Regions from separate parts of the Homo sapiens genome. Here region 1 is linked to region 2. A link means that fine-mapping ties the variant in region 2 to the expression of a gene that starts in the linked region. Tissue or cell type: whole blood. Region 2 holds a variant in brackets; the other region holds the start of a gene. All regions are shown on one strand. Distances are from middle to middle.

What was found. PIP is the estimated chance that this variant, and not a neighbour inherited with it, causes the effect.
Region 1: ZFP69 starts here. The variant in region 2 is fine-mapped to the expression of ZFP69 in whole blood (INTERVAL, PIP 0.97).

Annotation. Positions count from the first base shown.
Region 1 is chr1:40,474,032-40,480,370 of GRCh38, forward strand. It overlaps ZFP69 (ZFP69 zinc finger protein), which reads left to right and starts at 3,259. Exons shown (of 6, transcript NM_001320179.2): 1 at 3,259-3,863; 2 at 5,005-5,457. The coding sequence starts at 5,331. RefSeq lists a silencer at 2,998-3,467.
Region 2 is chr1:40,506,893-40,513,231 of GRCh38, forward strand. EXO5 (exonuclease 5) reads left to right here and starts at 1,875. Exons shown (of 4, transcript NM_001346953.2): 1 at 1,875-2,016; 2 at 2,559-2,733; 3 at 2,841-2,898. EXO5-DT (EXO5 divergent transcript) reads right to left here and starts at 1,803. Exons shown (of 2, transcript NR_187365.1): 1 at 1,697-1,803. RefSeq lists enhancers at 1,912-2,161, 2,192-2,281. The variant CT/C (reference allele first, on the strand shown) is at 3,302.

The DNA of each region.
Region 1 (6,339 bases), 33 kb before region 2:
TACCGATATTTATTTACCCATTCTACTGCTGACAGGCTGCTATGAACATTCTAGTATATGTCTTTTAGGGAACATATTTATGCATTTCTGTTGAGTATATACCCAGGGGCAGGATTGCTGGGTCATATTATTCAGCTTCAGTAGATACTGCCAAATACTTTTCCAAAACAGTTGTATGTACCAATGTATAGTCTCACTAGCAGTATCTGAAAAATCTAGTTCTTAATTTTAATCTATGTTAATGTATCATTTTTTCTTTATGTTTAGTACTTTCTATAGCATGTAATAAATCTGTGCCTATATTAAGGTTGTAAAAACATTCTCTGATTTTCTTCTAAAAAGTTTTATTATTTTATATTTAGATCTGCAATCCATTTGGAATATTTTTGTATATGTTGTAAACCAGGAGTTAATATGAATATCCAATTGATCCAGCACCAATGTATTAAAAACACCTTCCTTTCCCCACCCCTGTCATATGCAAGGTGGTGGTCTATGTGTATGTCTGCATCTGGACTCTATTCCCTTCATTGCTCAGTTGATCTATTCTTACACCAATAGCTACCTCATTGTCTTAGTTACTATAATTTTATATTTGGTCTTCATATTCAGTAATATGCCCTTCCAGCTAAAAATACGTATAAAAATTCCAGCCAAAAAATGGCTGGGCCTAGTGGCTCACACCTGTAATCCCAGCACTTTGGGAGCCCAAGGCAGGCAGATCACTTGAGACCAGGAGTCTGAGACCAGCCTGGCCAACATGACAAAACCCTTCTCTACTAAAAACACAAAAATTAGCTGGGCATGGTGTCACTCACCTGTAATTTCAGCTACTCAGGAGGCTGAGGCATGAGAATCGCTTGAACACAGGAGGCGGAGGTTGCAGTGAGCTGAGATGGCACCACTGCACTCCATCCTGGGCAACAGAGAGAGAATCTGTCTCAAAAAAAAAAAAAAATACACACACACACACACACACACACACACACACACATACATATACTCAATATGCTATATCTATTTTTTAAACCTCATGGATTATTGTGGATTATTGAGATTTTTAGTCTATTATTTATGTTCATTTAGATTTAGTCATGTTTTTTACTTTGTTCTGTTTTTACTGCACCAGGCAAGTGGACCCCAGTTTGGTTCTATAACAATTTGTAGTTTTACTATAATGCGTGGATTTCTTCTACTAGGTGTAGATTTCTTTGACTAGATAAATAAAAGGGTTTCTTTTATTTATCCCACTAGAGAGTTATATGGCATCTTATATCTGTGACCTGGTTCCTTTCATAGGTACTAAAAATATTCAGCCCTTATTTCTTCAAATACTGTCTCTGCCCTAGCTTTATCTCTCGTTAAACTTAGTTCGATCCTCTTACTGTATTCTCTATCTCTCTTACTCTGTCTTCTGTAGGGTACATTTTTTGTTTCTCAATGCTTTATTCTAGATAATTTCTTGTGACCTACCTTCCTTTCAATTTATTCTACATTCAGCAGTGTCTAATCTGCCATTAACTGAGTTCTTAATTTAGTTACTGTATTTCTCAATCATAGAAGAGAAGTCTATTTACTTCTTTTTTTAAATCTGCTCTATCACTTTGTATAGTTTTTAGGTACCTGCCAAAATTGTCCAAGTTATCTTTTTTATTTCTTCAGGCAAAGAAAATATGATTTTATTTTACTTTTTTTCCTAAAAACTCTAATAGGTAAGCAAGAAAATATACATATGTTTTAAGCCAGGGTCTTGCTCTGTCACCCAGGCTGAAGGGCAGTGGTATGATCGTGACTTACTGCAGCATCAACCTGCTGGGCTCAAGCGATCCTCCCATCTCAGCCTCTTGAAGAGCTGGGACTTCAGGGCTGTGCCACCATACCTGGCTAATTTTTGATATTTTGTAGAGACAGGGTTTTGCCATGTTGCCCAGGCTGGTCTTGAACTCCCGAGCTCAAGCAATCCACCTGCCTTGGCCTCCCAAAGTGCTGGGATTATAGACATAAACCACTGTGTCCAGCCCAAGAAAATATTATTTTGCGGTTTGCATCAAATAATTCTAAAAGCAGTTGTTTCTGCAGGTCTATTTCCAATGTTTGTGTTTCTGCTGGTTCTCACTAAGAATCTAGTTTCTTTGTGTACCTGGTTATCTTTAATTCTGTATTTGACATTGTCTATGAAAACTTATGTGTAGGAAAAATGTCGGCCCTACAATTATAAGGCTTTCCTCCACCTATTTGCTTTTGCCAAGCATCTGGTGACACCATAGTCAGAGACAGTCTTAAACCAAGATAATGTCTGAGACAGGCAATTTGATGCAGTCTGTAAATTCCTTTTAAGCTGTTCCATTTTCAATTCATCCTCACCCTGAGGCTGTTGCCCTTTGGGGTCCCAGTTATTGTAAGGAGGGTCTTCTTCTTCTTCTTCTTTTTTTTTTTTTTTTGAGATGGAGTTTTGCTCTTGTCGCTCAGGCATGGAGAAACCCCATCTCTACTAAAAATACAAAATTACAGGCATGGTGATGCGTGCCTGTAATCCCAGCTACTCTGGAGGCTGAGGCAGGAGAATCACTTGAACCCGGGAGGCAGAGGTTGCGGTGAGCCAACATCGCGCCACTGCACTCCAGCTTGGGCAACAAGAGCGAAACTCCGTCTCAAAAACAAATTTATATATTATATATATATGTATATATATATACACATACACACACACACACACACACACGTATTCCAGAATTTTATTTTTAAATTTTATTGTTGTTTTCTACAGTGGGTTGATACAAATATCCTAGCCCATCATCTCCCCACCCTGCTTTCCTTTTCTTCATGGTCCTCACAATCGCCTGGGGTATTATCTATTTATTTTTCTATTTGTTATTGTCAATTAATTTCAATGTAATTAAGTTCCAAGAAAGCAGGAACTGCGTTTTGTTAACTGCTGTATACGCAGGGCCAATAAGAATGTGGGGGTAGATCTTACACACTCAGAATAGATAACTGAATGAATGAATGAATGAATGAGTGAATGAATGAATGACAGGGAAGGCGCTTCACCGGAAAGGCTGAAGGAGGTCTCCCAAGGACCGCTGTGAGGAAACGGGGGGCGGCGTGGGTGGGTGGCCGCTACCCACGGTTCCGGACGGCCCTCGGGGGCGCGCTCGGGCGGCTTCCAGCTTCCGGGTTCGAGGGCGCGCGCTGCTTCCCGGGAGAGGGCGGGCTCCGTGGCAGCCCCCTGTGGGCGGAGCCGGCGGCCGGGGCTCACAACCCGCCGGAAGACGCGCGGGTTGTGGCAGCTGCAGCGGGACCGCGTGGGGTGGGCCCCGGGACCGCCAGGGCTGCAGCGAGAGCGGCCGGCGGTGCAAGCGGCCGGGAGGGCGCGGCCGGAGGCAGAGGCCAGGCGAGACACCCGGCTGCGGCCTAAGAGGCCAGGCTGGGTGGGCTTGGCTGCAGCCGCCAGCCCCGTGTTAAAGCGGCAGCCAGGGAGGTGTATCCTCCCCGGGGTCTGCAAGACGCCGGCTCAGGGCATCCCTCCCATTCCGGCCCTCAAAGCCTCGCTCCTGGGGGCGCTGCTGGGAAAGCCCACCCGCCTGGGCGGGCCCTTGATGGGAATGTGGAGCAGACCCTCGTCCACTCCGGAGGCCGAGGGTCCTCCGGGCTTCCGAAGGAAGCCGACCTCAACGCTGGACGCTTCTTGGAGAATGATTGCGTTGAGTGGAGATGTGGTCTGTCTATAAAAGGCCGGGAGGGAACAATATCTGTTACCACTCAGTCCGTCTCTAAAGAGACACTCTTTACCGCTGAAAACCTCAAGAGTGAGCACTCCCACGCCCCCGTCTCTGGTCCTACCTGGGTCCAAGGCCGATGTGGTGAGTAGGAGTCTGTGTGCAGTCTTTGAGTCCGAGGGTGGCATGTCTGGGAGCACTGTGAGGGTGGGGCATCTTCGATATGAAGCTTCTCAGCCATTAACTGTTTCCCGAGTAAGATTCGAAAATTCGTGCACTTTGGTAACAAGACTTTTTATGTATTCAGGGGTGGGATATTTCTCACAAGCTCCAATTCCTAGAACACACGCAGCTCCTGTCTCTGCATATAGTCACACACACACACACACACACACACACGCCTATAAGTCACATACCCATCCTTCTCCAACAAACTTCAAAAAGTTGGGCCAGCTCCCTTCCCACGTAGCTCCGACTGTTCTTGGAGTGCCGTATACTTTGGACCTGGTCACGGTCAAAGCACCTGCTCAGATTCTAGGGTTTGGTTGAGATGATGGATTTGAGTTGTTTCCAAATTTGCCTATTACTATTCTGCAGTAGTCCTCATTATACTAAATTTACACCATTTGAAGACATACCCTCTTCCCCAATTTTAACATTTCTGAAACCAAGATGCATCTTCCCAGTGTGGTTCCAAGGAACTTGCCAGCTGCTGGGCATCTGCGTGGGTGGTGACGTGGCTGTCACTGCTTGTTCATGCCAAAATGCAGCTATGTCATTATTCTGTCAGTTGAGATATTTTGAACTTTAAATTCAGATTTAATGGTTTCTAAAAATAACTTTAAAAATTAATACTATGATTCAGCAATATGATAACAGGTTTATAACAATGTTCATTAAGGGTTTACTGTATGCCTAGCATTGTCTCAACCAACATTACAACTCTATAGAATACAATTATTATCTCCATTTTATAGATTAAGAAACTGAAGCTGAGAGTTGAAGTGTCATAGAGCTTTTAAGTGCAAGTGTCAGGTTTCTAAGCCAGGCTGTCTGATTTCAAAGCCTGCCCTCTTAAACCCCGTCTGTGTCCAGGCAGAAGATGCATGCAGCTTACAAGGAGGGAAGATGAGGCATGGTCTGTGCATGTTTGTACATCTTTGCATGTTTGTGTATGTATGTATAGAACTGGAGATAGAGCCACGTCCAGGAACATGTATTATATTTATTCCTGCATGGATATTTTTCTTTTGGGTATTTTGCAGTTTTAAATATATTTCTGCAGATTCTGGAGTTCTGGAGACAAGTGCTTCTGGATCCCTCTTCCCTTCCCTTTTGCTCCTCTAAAGAGTATGGAGACATGAACTCAAACCTAACTAACTGGCTGCCTCCCAAAGAAAGTGCTTGATTTAAAGGGGAGTTTGTTTTCCAGAATTGTTAAAGTCACATCAGTCTCTAGGAACCCCCAGGTCCTGGTGCTGCAGGGACACACCAGAGTCCTGAGGGCAGGTGATTGGAATCTGAGCAACACCCCACAACTGTGAAGCGTCTCATCAAGAGCTTCTGGCAATTTCCTCACCAGAAGTGGACAAGTCCAGTAAGGCAGGCATCATGCCACAGCAGCTCCTGATCACCCTGCCTACCGAGGCCAGCACCTGGGTGAAGCTGCAACATCCAAAGAAGGCCGTGGAGGGGGCGCCCCTGTGGGAGGATGTGACTAAAATGTTTGAAGGAGAAGGTGAGAATGGACTGATGGAGGGGGAAGAAGGGGATCTCATTTGTGTGTGAAAAGATAGGTACACACTTCATTGAAGTGGAGAGAAGGAGGGAGAGAAGGTCTCTGGGGGTTCATTCTTGTGGTTTTTGGGAAGGGGACAGCTGTGAGGGAAAATCTTGGGGTCCAGCATGGACTCCTTGTGACACGTGCTTGCAGCTGCTCTCATCTCCCATCTTCAAATACTACATGTAGCAGGAAGACAGAATACAAGGTGTTCCCCACCAGTGGTGCCTGAGTGTGGGAATGTGATTCACAGACAGGTCTAAGATTTCTGCCCTCCTTAAGTCCTCTAAGGGTTTTCCTGCACAGGTTCCAGTCATTTTAGCCCCAACCCAATATTTATCACAAGTATCAGTTTTTTCTTTTCATCTGCTGAGAGGCAGGAATGACATGCCAGATTACTCTCATGTTACCTTGAACTGTGGGAGAGATGCCCAACAATCACACCTTATTTAGTGGTCTGGTTAGGAGTAAATAGAAGGATGGAGGAAGTCATGTGTCTCATGTGGTGTTTTAATTCATACCTTTAATGCTTTACACTCAGCCAGTATTTATTGTTCTAGCTGTGTCAGGCAGGGACTTTGGCTAAACATCTTAAAAGATGGAAAAATGAATAATTATCTCTAATTCTGATTACCAATGGATTGAGATAGGCATACACCTCAATCAAAATAATAGAAAGCAGCCTAAGAAAAGTTATTTTGGAACACAAGCGACGGAAAACTTTGTTCTGGTTGTGATTTTTTTTTTTTTTTGGTGATGGAGTCTCGCTGTGTCGCCCAGGCTGGAGTGCAGTGGTGCAATCTCAGCTCACTGCAACTCCTGCCTCCCAGGTTCAAGCGA
Region 2 (6,339 bases):
AATTTTCCCAACTGACGCACCAGAGTAGCTGGGACTACAGGCACGTATCACCACCCCCAGCTAATTTTTGTATTTTTTGTAGAGACGTGTTTTCACCATGTTACCCCAGCTGGTTTCTGAACTGAGCTCAAGGGATCCACCCACTTCGGCCTCCCAGAGTTCTAGGATTACAGGTGTGTGAGCCACTGCACTCAGCCTGTAGTTGTCTTAATTTAATGTTTCTCTTTCTTTCTTTTCTTTTCTTTCTTTCTCTTTCTTTCTTTTTCTTTCCTTTTTTCTCTTTCTTTTTTTCCTTTTTTTTTTTGAGACAGAGTCTCACTTTATCACCCAGGCTGGAGTGCAGTGGCCTGTTGTCGGCTCACTGCAAACTCCGCCTCCCAGGTTCAAGTGATTCTCCTGCCTCAGCCTCCCAAGTAGCTGAGATTACAGGCACCTGCCACCACACTTGGCTAATTTTTTGTATTTTTACTAGAAACGGGGTTTCACTATGTTGGCCAGGCTGGTCTCAACTCCTGACCTCAAGTGATCCGCCTACCTGGGCCTCCCAAAGTGTTGGTATTACAGGCATGAGCCACCATGCCTGGCCAATTTAATGTTTTTCTATTTTTGTTTTAAAATATTTACCTATTCTGAAGTCCAAAGATATTTTCCTATATTATATTCTGAAGACTTTATAGTTTAGGATTTCACATTTAGGTCTTAATCCAGCTACAATTGATTTTTGTGATGAAATGAGAGATAGAGGTCCTGTTTTCTGTTTTGTTTTTTTTTTTGAGACGGAGTCTCCCTCTGTTGCCCAGGCTGAAGTGCAGTGGTGTGATCTCCGCTCACTGCAACCTCCGCCTCCCGGTTCAAGCGATTCTCCTGCTTCAGCCTCCTGAATAGCTGGGACTACAGGTGTGTGCCACCACACCCAGCTAATTTTTGTACTTTTTAGTAGAGACAGGGTTTCACCATGTTGGCCAGGATGGTCTCGATCTCTTAACCTCGTGATCCGCCCACCTCAGCCTCCCAAAGTGCTGGGATTACAGGCGTGAGCCACCGTGCCCGGCCTTCATATTGTCATAGAACCTTCACTGAATAGACCATCTTTTCTCCATGGCTGTATGATGCCACCTTTGTCATAAATCCAGTTTTCAAGTATGCGTGATAAACCGTAAAGAAAAGCAAAGAGTCAAGTATCTGCTTTTGGTAAAATAAATAAATAAATAAATATAAATAAGAAAAGCAAAGTGTTATAAAAGTCGGGCTAGTGGTTTTCTCAGGAAGTGTATCTGTGAAGAACCTGACACTATTCTTTTTTCGCTCTAATGACTTGGCTGTTCATAATTATACTTATCTTTGGTTTATATTTCAGAATAAAATTGTGTTATATTTATCAATAAAAGGTTAGTTAAAAGTAAGCAAACAGAAAAAAAAAAAGAAATATTGATGAGGGGAGCGCCAGCATCTCTCAAAAGTGAGTTCGTGGTTTTGCTCTCAATGGAAAAGCCGGCGGGAGGTGCTAAGGTGGGGATGCTGAATCCACGGATGGCCAAGCGGAGACGCGGCACTTCACCGGGGGCAGCGAGGGGCCCAGACCTTGCTCGGATTGTCCCGGTGGTAACTGGGAGACCTCGCCAGTGAGGGAAGTTACAGATCAGCTGCGCCCGGAATTAAACGACCCACAGACAACGGCGCAAACAGAGGGACTGACCTGCTTTAGTGAGCTCCCAAAACCTGCTCTCGCATAAGCACACCCTCCTCCGCTCACAGAGACGGATTTCTGCCCCAGCCGCAGCCTCGCGAGGTAGGCGGCGCCGCGAGGGCCTCTGGGAAGGCGGTCCGTGGGCAGCCGCGGGGCACTCTGGGACTGGGCTCTGGGCGGCTTTTTTGCGAGTGGCGGGCCGACTGTGTAGTCCGCTCCGGCAGCGCGCTCTGCCCGGCTTCCTCAGTCTCCTCGCCGGGAGCGTCCGGGAGCAGCTCCGAGGCCGCGGCGAAACCAGGTGGAGTCCGAGGTTCGGAGGAGTATCAGAGGTTAGGGGAAGGCCGGAGAATGGGCTGGGAGGCTGCGTTTCGGAGCTTAGGGTTCTGTCCCTGCGATCGCCGCGTCTCCCTCCCTTGGTGGGCGCGGCTCCCGGGAAGCGGCTCGTCTCGTCTCCCCTCACAGGCCGGGTTCCCGTTCTGGACCTTCGCCCTCGGAACACAGTGCTGTTGGCCGGGACTCCTTCCCGAGGTGGACGGCTCCCTGTTCTTATTCCTGGCTCTGCCAGAACTGTAGGAAGTGCTCAGTACACTTTAGGGCATGCATGGCACTCCCTGGGAGACAGTGCTTTAGGGCCAGAGGAAAGATCTTCCCTGAAGGCAAACGCCCGCGGAGCCCACAAGTCCGGGCCGCACTGAACAAGTCAGGATGTTGCCATCGGCAATTCTGCAGAAGGCAGTAACCCATCTGAGAGAAAGAGCCGCTGTCATAAGGTCTCTTGCTTGAGCTGCTGGGTTGAGAATGGAGCTGGAAGAGGGAACTGATCTCGGAGCTCCTTGGGGATCTTGGTTATGTCTGACCCTTTTACTTTCAGGGAGCAGGGATTGGATCAAGTCATTGCATCTAGAGTACGGGGGAACGAAGAAATCATGGAGAGAGTTTGCCCCAGGAGAGAGGCGAGCGTTATGTAACCTAGGATCTGGGGTGGGTAACAGTCTGTGCAGTGTCAATGTGAGAGGAGAAAACACCCAACGTGAGGGAATGGTCAGGTAAGAAAGGACCAGAAGTTCCGGTTCTACCATAGCAAGGACCTAAGTTGCTAATTTAGGTTCTTTAATGCAGACCTGGTCTTTCAGAACTTCTTTCTCTTCCCTAGCCTTGTCATTTCAGCATTCTGGCCTTCCCTATGAGGAGGAAGATCAACGAAGTCACAGGTGAATAGGAGTTTCTCTTCTAAAGTTTCATCTCCTTTGTCAGGGGGAATCGATACACTCTCTCATCTCTTCCTTGGGGAAAAAGAAGGAGATCTATCTTCATCGAGTGCTAATATGCGTACTATATGTTATCACTCAATGGTCGGATATCTCAGTAGGGTTAGTAGGTATTTTAAAAATGTGTCAGTAACTTCAGGAAAACTAGAACCTTGTCCAAGCTTACTCAAAAGGCAAGTAGCATACTACTAAATGCTACCGAACTACTCAGGATTAGGTTTAGAATCCATATCTGTAGGACTCCCAGACTCTTGGCATTATGCTGTTTCCCAGCATCCCATTCACTTACTACCTAACAATTTTGCCATACCTGTGTACTACCTGTATTATTCTATGTTTTTACTTA[CT/C]TTTTTTTTTTATAAAAATCAAACTTGTCCTAAGAAACAATATCTGTGAAATTAGCCATTTGATGGCTGCTCCAATAACAGTATAGTTATTCTAAGGTGTATCTAAAAATGTTGGTCCATGTGCTATGTAAAATCGTCTCGTGTCAGACATACAAACTACAATTTGGGACACAATGCACTGCATTATGCTCTCTTCTGGATTCTTTTCTGCGTAGGAAAGTCCCAGACACATCTGAGCATCAGTCATCCATCCCTAGTGTACTGTTTTATTCTTATAGATGAATACTTTCACAGAGAATGCCCTGCTTTGTATCTTCTCCAAAAGACATTTCACTTCCCTGTTTAGAACTACCTGTTCTCAATGTTGTATGTAAAACAAGTAGGAACTCCATACATTTCAGGAGCTTCCTCTCTCTTTGGGGAGTTAATGTGTACACAGGAAATAGTCTAACTCTATGCTGTTCAGTAGAGCTTTCTGTGATCAGGGAATGTTCTGTATCTGTGCCTTATCTGTATCCACCAGCCAGATGTAGCTACTGAGCACTTAATATATGGCTAGTGCAACTGAGATGTGAATTTTATTTTATTTTAATTAAATTTAAGTAGCCACATATGGCTAGTGGCTACTAATGGCTACCATATTGGACAGCCAGGTCTAGATATTTGAAATAAAATATTTTAAGGTTATTGATTTGGACTTGGAGTTCCCCCTCACCCTCACAAATACCTCATAGCATATGTGTTATAAATGCCCTTTAGGGCTGGGTGCGGTGGCTCACGCCTGTAATCACAGCACTTTGGGAGGCCGAGGCGGGTGCATCACGAGGTCAGGAGATCGAGACCATCCTGGCTAACACGATGAAACCCCGTCTCTACTAAAAAATACAAAAATTAGCTGGGCGCGGTGGCGGGTGCCTGTAGTCCCAGCTACTCGGGAGGCTGAGGCAGGAGAATGGCGTGAACCCGGGAGGCAGAGCTTGCAGTGAGCTGAGATCCCGCCACTGCACTCCAGCCTGGGTGAAAGAGTGAGACTCTGTCTCAAAAAATAAAATAAAAGAAAAGAAAAAATAAATGCCCTTTAACTTTAGTTTCTTGGTGAAGGGTAAATATTCTTTCCAATTTTCAGAGACTTCATAGTTGAAATAAAGTTTCTTGAAATTATTTAAAGCACATTGACAGTTTATAACACTTGTGTAAATGCACAGCTTCTGTATTTTGTTACTATTGAAATATCCTGTAAAGCAATAATGTTGTAGGATACTCTATAAGCAAAAGTCTTACTATTGTATTATTTTTATTCATTGCAGATAACTTTTCTTCTAGCTATCTATGTTTTCTTTCATTAGTGACATTTAGACTATTTAAAAATCAGTTAAACACAACCACAACTGATATTAATGACGTTTTCAGGGCATCACTTCTTACGCTTTGACATAGGAGTTGGTGCATTCACCTTATTTCACTGCTTATTAGAATAGCAAGAAGGGGACATTTGGTTCATAGCTATCTCTATCAGCTAAAATTCTATGTCAAATTATTTATTTTCCTGGCACTCAAAGTCAAACACTAATGGACTGGTTGTATCTTGTTTTGCTTACTCTCTATGCAGGTTAGATATGTGGGGTTAGAAGGAAGGCTTAAAAAGAGTATCTTCATAAGATAATTTGCCTAGTTTCTTTTTTCTTTTTTCTTTTTTTTTTTTGAGACGGAGTCTCGCTCTGTTGCCCAGGCTGGAGCACAGTGGTGGGATCTCAGCTCACTGCACGCTCCGCCTCCTGGGTTCACGCCATTCTCCTGCCTCAGCCTCCCAAGTAGCTCGGACTACAGGCACCCACCACCAAGCCCGGCTAATTTTTTGTACTTTTAGTAGAGACAGGTTTCACCGTGTTAGTCAGGATGGTCTCGATCTCCTGACCTCATGATCCGCCCGCCTTGGCCTCCCAAAGTGCTGGGATTACAGGCGTGAACCACTGCGCTTGGCCGCCCAGTTTCTTAAGATTAAAAAATACTTGAAAGACAAAACAATCAAACATAATGTGTGGTCTTTGTTTCCTGGATTAAAGAAAAGCTATCTAGGACATTTTGAGGACAGTTGGGGAAATTTATATATGAACTGGAATGTTAAGGAATTACTAATTTTGTCAGATGTGATAATGTAGTTATGAGGAGAATGTCATTTGGAAGACAGTATTGTGGTTATGAAGAAGAATGCCATTTGGAAATTATGCTGAAACATTTAGATTTTAAAGTTTTATGCTATCTGTAATTTACTTTAAAATAGTTCAGCCAAAACAAAAAAGTACACACACAAGAAGTAAATACAGCAAAATGTCAACAGTTGTTCATCTACATGGTGTGGACATGGGTGTTTGTTGTTTTATTCTTTCTACTTCTCTGTATGTTTGAAAATTTTCTTTTTCTTTTGAGATGGAGTCTTCACTCTGTCACCCAGGCTGGAGTGCAGTGGTGTTATCTCAGCTCACTGCAACCTCCACTTCCTAGGTTCAAGCGATTTTCCTGCCTCAGCCTCCCGAGTAGCTAGGATTACAGGTGCCCGCCACCACACCCGGCTAATTTTTTGTATTTTTAGTTTCACCATGAGGTGTATTTTTAGTTTCACCATGCTGGCCAGGCTGGTCTCAAACTCCCGACCCCAGGTGATCCACCTGCCTCGGCCTCCCAAAGTGCCGAGATTACAGGCTTTAGCCACTGTACCCGGCCTTGAAAATCTTTATAGTAAAAAGTTGAAAGAAAAAAGGAGTACAGTACCCATCCCCATCCCACAGTAGGGTAGTGAGATATTGGATGTAAAACACGTGGCTCAGTGTCTGGCACACAAAAAATAACCGCACAATAAATATTCTCTATTATAGCAGTAAATTTTGAGTTTTTAATAATGCTGTAATAGGCAGATTTTTTTCCCATTATAAGCTAGTTTCTTGTGGAGGGAGAAAATAAACTTAATGGGAAACTCCAGTTTAGTGACAGACACCAATTTCTATAATATTAAGAGGATAATTTATGAAGTCAAGCTACT